Homo sapiens: one gene and its partner. The protein of the gene in region 1 purifies or fractionates together with the protein of each later gene. This does not show direct contact. Each region holds a gene or a part of one and is shown on either strand. Other genes may lie near its edges.

Region 1 (3,500 bases):
GCCCCTTACCCAATCTTTGTTTTGGAGATAATACCAGCTTCAATACAAAGAGTAAAATTGCCTTAAATGTCTACCACTGTCTACTATAAGGTAGACAACAAGTTTACGAAGGGATTTCTCCTACATTTGATTGAGAAAGAAAAGGTCTTTGACTCATGATTTTCTGATTTTATTGTATTTGATATGTAAATGGGAATTTTCTTAATGTGTTATGCATAGTCTTTACTTTTGCATTGGATTATATGCTTAGCCTAATATCTGAATTTATTTTACATTTTTAAATGTAATAGCTGCACGAGGTTAATGACAACATTCCTCAAGTGAGTTAAGTCCATTTCAAATCACGTCCCCCACACCCCCAAGCATTAAATTATGGGTATCCAGATAGAATGTCTCATAAAGTAGACGGTACAGGACCTGTGAATTAACAGTATTTGAACTCAAGGGCCTATACCTGGAGGTATAGTGAGTCTTTGGTACTCTTTATTTTCAAGAAATATAGTATTTCAAGTTTATGTTTTAATGTCACAGCAATGATCTTGAAAATGACTTCTCCCCTACTTTTATTCTCTCTTCTTTCACCTGGAGTATGTTTCTGATATGCTATCTAGTCATCATCCTTTTTTCCCAAGGCCTAGCTTAAGGATTCTTTTTTTTTTTCCCCCGAGACAGAGTCTTGCTCTGTCACCCAGGCTGGAGTACAGTGGCGCAATCTCTGCTCACTGCAACCTCCGCCTCCTGGGTTCAAGTAATTCTCCTGTCTTAGCCTCCTGAGTAGCTGGGATTACAGGCACCTGTCAGCACACCCGCTAATTTTTGTATTTTTAGTAGAGACGGTGTTTCACCATGTTGGCCAGGCTGGTCTCGAACTCCTGACCTCATGATCCGCCCTCTGCGGCCTCCCAAAGTGCTGGGATTACAGGCGTGGGCCACTGCGCCTGGCCAGGATTATTATTCTTAAAGCCTTTTCTCACAAATGTAGTCTCCATTGTTGTCACAATTCTAAAATTCCATATATGTCTTTTAACTATAAATTTCATGCAGAGAATAGTGTTCTGTTTATCTGATATCCCATTGCAATAGTACAAGGGCCATTTAAAACATGTCCACCTATTAATTTCAGGAAATGATTAATAGGAAGTTACCTTGCATCCAACAAACATGAAGACTTACTATGTCCATGCACTGATGGTCACAGGTAGACATAACTCCTGTCTTTTCTAACATTTAGACTAGTGAAAATGACAAATCAAAGCCAGGCATGGTGACTCACTCCTGTTGTCACTCAGGAGGCTGATGCAGGAGTATCAGTTGATTCCAAGAGTTCGAGGCTGTAGTGTGCTGTAATGGCATTGCACTCTAGCTCTAGCCTGGGTAACATAGCCAGACTCCGTCTCTTTTTTATTTAAAAAAGAGGAAAAAAAGCAAGTCATAATCCGAGCCCTACATAGATAATGGGTACACCAGGATAGGGAAGGATGTGGTTCCTCCCTGTCCTCAGAGCTTTAAACTAGAGAAGAGAGAATAATCACAACCAACAGTAAAAAGCTAAGGATTTTGAAGGTATATTCAAAATGCATTTGGAACTGAGCTCAGATAAAGTTAATTTTTCTTGGAATCATTGGCGAAGGCATCGTGGAGAAGGTATTATTATTGGAGCACAATCCAGAGGCTACATAGATTTTTCTGAACTTGGGGAGGCAGAGCTACAATTACGGTAGTAAGAATAAACTAAGAGGGAACAAACAGGACATTAAATCAGTTCGTCTGTTCAGCAGTGCTCCAGGTACTTGGGACTCATCAGTAAATAAAATAGTTCCCTTCATTTCATTTTTCATCTAACCGTGTCCACTTGCTCCCCACCCCACCTCCCCGTTAAAAGGGAGCAATACAGGCTGGGCACATGGCTCACGTGTGTAATCTCAACACTTTGGGAGGCTGAGGTGAGAGGATCACTTGAGGCCAAGAGTTCAAGACTAGCCTGTGCAATATAGTGATACCCTGTCTCTATAAAAACTAAATAAGGAAACAGTGCAGTCATCCCTTTTTGTCCATGGGGTGTTGGTTCCAGAACATCCCATGGATACCAAAATCCACACATAGTCAAGTCCCTTAGGTAAAGTCGTGCCGTATTTGCATATAACCTATGCACATCTTCCCATGTACTTTAAATAATCTATAGATTACTTTTAATACCTAATGCAATTTAAGTGCTATGTAAATAGCTATTATACTGTATTGGGTTTTTTATTTTTTTCTTGTTTTGCCCTTTCTAATATTTTCAATCCGAGGTTGATTGACTCTGCAGATAAAGTAGACTGGAAAAGTACAGTCGTCCTTAGGTGTATGAGGGAGATTGGTTCTAGGACCCCTGCCAAAATCCACAAATATTCTAGTCCCCCAGTCTGCCCTGTGGAACCCGTGTATATGAAGAGTGGGAGCTCTGTGTGTGTGGATTCCACATCCCAAGAATACGGTATTTTCTATCTGAGTTTGGTTGCTGAACCTGCACATACGGAGGGCGGACTGTATTTATTGGAAAAAAAATAGCATATAAGTTCAAACCTGTGGTGTTCAAGTGTCAATAGTACATTTTGATTTTTTTTTTTTACCAAGAGTTGTTCTGTGTAATTATGAAAGAATAAGGGAAACGTATGAACCCTAAAATTGGATATGTTTTGTTAATGTTCATTTTTATCTCTTAACAGTTACTATGCGAGTCAGAAGAAAACATTTGAAATTAATCCCAGACACCCGCTGATCAGAGACATGCTTCGACGAATTAAGGTAGTATTAAAGCAGTCCTCTTGCTTGTCTTTTAATTTGAGTACTTTGTATCTTTTAATATTAATCTAGTGCATCTTCTTGCATTTCAGGAAGATGAAGATGATAAAACAGTTTTGGATCTTGCTGTGGTTTTGTTTGAAACAGCAACGCTTCGGTCAGGGTATCTTTTACCAGACACTAAAGCATATGGAGATAGAATAGAAAGAATGCTTCGCCTCAGTTTGAACATTGACCCTGATGCAAAGGTTTGTATCCCCAACCTTCCCGCAAAGGCTGGCTGGCTTTCTTTGTTTCTGTTCTTTCAGAATAGGCCTCTCATGATTGAGGGATGTAGCTTTGCGACATTTGCCTAATTTCTACCTTTTGAAAGAATTTTATTGAATGTTTGAATCCCTGTAGTGTCAGGCACTGCACTAGAAACTAAGTCCTCCTTTTACGTCCTCTTTCCTTTTTGCCTGCCTCCTTTTGTTAGCTTGGCTGTTCATTCTAGTTAAGAGGATTTAGTCTGTGGTTCTGAATAAACAGAAGTGACATTAATTATGATTTTATACATATAAATGAGCAAAGTGGAAATAAATCCAAGGCATTAATGGGCCCATAAATGTTGTGTTTAGGTGGAAGAAGAGCCCGAAGAAGAACCTGAAGAGACAGCAGAAGACACAACAGAAGACACAGAGCAAGACGAAGATGAAGAAATGGATGTGGGAACAGAT
Region 2 (3,500 bases), about 99 Mb from region 1:
TTTTCAACTCCAGCTTCCTTGGACAGTTGAGCAATTGCTTGGGGAATCTTCACAAAAACATCCTCAAAATCAAAGTTTCTGGAAGATAAAAAATAAAAGGATTGGTTAAGAACTCCACACACAGGATCTCAAAGCTTTACGTGATAAGATGGTTTTCATAACAGTACTGAAATTCACACTACTTAAACTTTTAAACAGCAATGATTTAACTTAAAGCTAAATTTGGCCAGGTGTGGTGGCTCATGCCTGTAATCCCAGCACTTTGGGAGGCCAAGGCGGGTGAATCATTTGAGCCCAGGAGTTCAAGACCAGCCTGCACAAAACAGTAAAACCCTGTCTCTATTTCTAAAAAAAGAAAAAAAATTTTTAATTTTTTTAAGCTAAAATTATTTTTTTAAAAAAGTTGACAGCTCTGCTGTCATTACTCTACACAATTTAAGGACTACTTTAAGTTAGAAATCCAGTATACTTCATGTTCTGCATTATCAGGGAATCCTGAGGCTGAGGCCCTTTAAAGAAACCTGGCCGTACTGGCTGCTGAAGTGTTAGGAATCACTTCTTACCCCGGGACTTTGTTTCCCGCAAGGGAAAAAAAAGAAACTAAAAACAAGTCAGTCAACAATTTCATTCGGTAACGTTAACTAAATGTTTACTCTGTACAATACACTATGTTAATCATTAGGGGGGATAAAAAGTTGAATAAGACCCCCAAGTCATCAAAGAATTTATAAAATATTTGATGAGAAGACACATATTAAAAAACTAAGTCAAATTTTAACACTATAAAAAGAGGTGTAAACAAAGTGTTGTGGACTATAGGATTGAAACATTATTTGTTAATAAACAATCCATACAAAGAACTGTTCAAATTAGTCCTCACGCCACCTCCAATTAACAATGCAGAAAAGACATCTAGAACACTGTCTACACAAGAAAAACCAAAGTTCAGCTTGCTAAACAGCAGAACAGGCAAAATCCTATTTCTTAACCCCATCCCATAGGGACTGATCCAAGTACAGGACCAACAGCAGCCACACCAATACCACCTACTGGCTTTTTATGGGCAGTATATCACACTGCTGACTTATACCAGACTTAATGTCAGCTACATCTCCTCAGGGGTGTCACTGGGTATGCAAGTGGTTGTTCAACCAACCCTTATTCACTAATTGAAAATGTCACTGTGATAGCTGGCACATAAAAGGTGCCCAGCGAAGGTCCATTAAACCCTAAGAAAGACTTAAGCAAAGAAGAAACAAGAGTCAAAGACTTACTTGGTTTCCCAGTCTCGTCCAATAAGATTGATGACCACATTGCTGTGTTGTACTACTCGTCGGATAGAATCTTTATCTCTCGCGTCCCATTCCTATAATAGCAGAAAGCAATCGGATGAAAACATAGGGGTATACCTCAGCACTCAACACTTCTGCAGCCTCCTCAATGCAAGTTTCAAAATGGGCCATCTGCTGTAGTCATAATATAGTGCCATTTCATCCAAGCTCCATTTATTACAACAGAAATGACATCTCAGACTCCCTGCTGATTCCCTCACTCTTTCCGAGACAAACAGGTAACAGTACACTTTACTCAGGTAATCAAATGACAGAGCTAAAAAGGAGGCTATTGATTTTTAATGGAGCATATTAGTTTTTGTCCACCCAACTACTCCTTACTAAGTTTGAAAAGAAACCCAGGAAACCAAGTCTCCAATCCTGAAATACAGACAAAGAAGCAAGGATCATTAGGGAGATAGACTTTCCCTTCTTGACAGCAACCACTTACAGACTGAAGATAGGAAGAGTGTCTTTTAAAGACTAGTGTTAGTTGGGGCCATTCATGACTATTTTCTTATTTCTTTTTAATTCTTTCCTCTTTTATAACCCCAGATCTAGTAATTTCTCCATTAACAACATAAAAACAAGAGTCAAAGAGAACTACCTAAAACTTCAGGGTGAGCCAAGGGCAGGTTTCTATAAGCATTTCAATGGAAGATAACAAGTAATAAGAATTTCTTAGCACCAAATAATAAGTGCACATGCATGAGTCAGTGCAATAGGAAGGAGACAGAGCAAGAAGGGAAAAGAGAAAGAAAGTGGGGATGAAAGAGAAAGAGAGAGAACTAGGATGTCTGTTTAATTTAGGAAAGAGAAAACAAACTATAAAATCAGATTCAAGAACAAAAAGATGAAGCCCCAGCAGGAAGAACCAGTTAGGACTGATGATAGAAAGTGGGTTAAAAGACACAGTCTAAACAGTGGCTTTGGAGTCAAACAGACAGGAATGCAAATCCCAGTTTGCCATATACTAACTTTGTACAAATTATCTCTTCAAACCCCATGTAAAATTAGAAAACACAACTTACCTCACGAGGTTATTATGACGATTAAGTGAAATATACATAAAATCTACAGCAGTGAGTGATGTAATAAAAGGAAACCAAATTTTCAGGGCTAAGGCCCAAGGGCACACAGTCAGGTGGGCAAACCAAGTGGACATTCAGACAGCAGATGCAAACAAAGACTAAAGCGGGGAAATCAGCACCTCACACCCCAAATAGTCCTTCTCGAAAATAAACACATAAACAAACACTAAACATACAAGTCTCTGAGTTCCCTGTGGTCTTGGTCATCCAAACGTGCTCAGAGCACAGGTCAATGCTAGACATTCAGGAAATAAATCTCTGCAGAAATAATGGAATAGATGTCATTTGGTTTAATTCCAATGGTTCAAAAGTTTTCACCTATCACTTTTTAAATACTTCAATTTTGAGGCTCTGACAAGGTGACCAACAAACTTGAGGGACAAAGAACTAGGAATAAGCTAAGATTCTGTAACTTTAATACCAAGAATATACTTAATAGTAAGATTTTGGAGAAGAAAAACATTTTGGAAATAAGAAATTTCTGATACAAGTATTATACTTAGCTTGTGAACACTGAGTCAAGAATAAATGAAAATGTGAAAATGAAATGAAAATAAATCAAAATTTAAAGGGATTACAAATAATCTGTATGAATATTACCAGAGATAGTAAGAAAGTTTAGCAAGTATTTTTTAAAAGGGAAAATGTATAACTCCATTCCTTACAGGACAACACAAGTAGGAAGTCAGCTATAAGATCAGTAGATTTAAGCATCAAGGCCCAGACAGTATCGCAATCAATAGCTTGGCTGCAGGCATTTGGGGCAGCACAACTCTTTGTGGAAAGAGACTGTCCTGTGCTCCGTAGGATATTTAGCATCCCTGTGCCTGTACCTAATAACCAGGACAGCTCCCCAATCACTGTGACAATCAAAGAGTTCCATTAATCACTCCCTTAATGGCCCTCCTCTACCCTCTTTCCCCTGCCTCACCGCATTGGCAACTACTGCCCTAAAGAACCTGTAGATTAAAGGACGACAAAGGGAATGCTCAGAAAGGACTGTTCTAAGTTAAATCTATACTAAACAACCAAGTTATAAAACACCCTATTTGTGATTTTTTTATGTTTATAGAGCACT

What was found.
Region 2: the proteins of HSP90B1 (region 1) and NDUFA9 fractionate together in Homo sapiens (co-fractionation; one large-scale study listed by BioGRID). This does not show direct contact.

Annotation. Positions count from the first base shown.
Region 1 is NC_000012.12:103,943,910-103,947,409, forward strand, and holds part of HSP90B1 (endoplasmin precursor), read left to right. Parts: intron 1-2,708; coding exon 2,709-2,787; intron 2,788-2,876; coding exon 2,877-3,032; intron 3,033-3,401; coding exon 3,402-3,500.
Region 2 is NC_000012.12:4,655,614-4,659,113, reverse strand, and holds part of NDUFA9 (NADH dehydrogenase [ubiquinone] 1 alpha subcomplex subunit 9, mitochondrial precursor), read right to left. Parts: intron 1,367-3,500; coding exon 1,275-1,366; intron 79-1,274; coding exon 1-78. UniProt on the Homo sapiens protein: Accessory subunit of the mitochondrial membrane respiratory chain NADH dehydrogenase (Complex I), that is believed not to be involved in catalysis. Required for proper complex I assembly.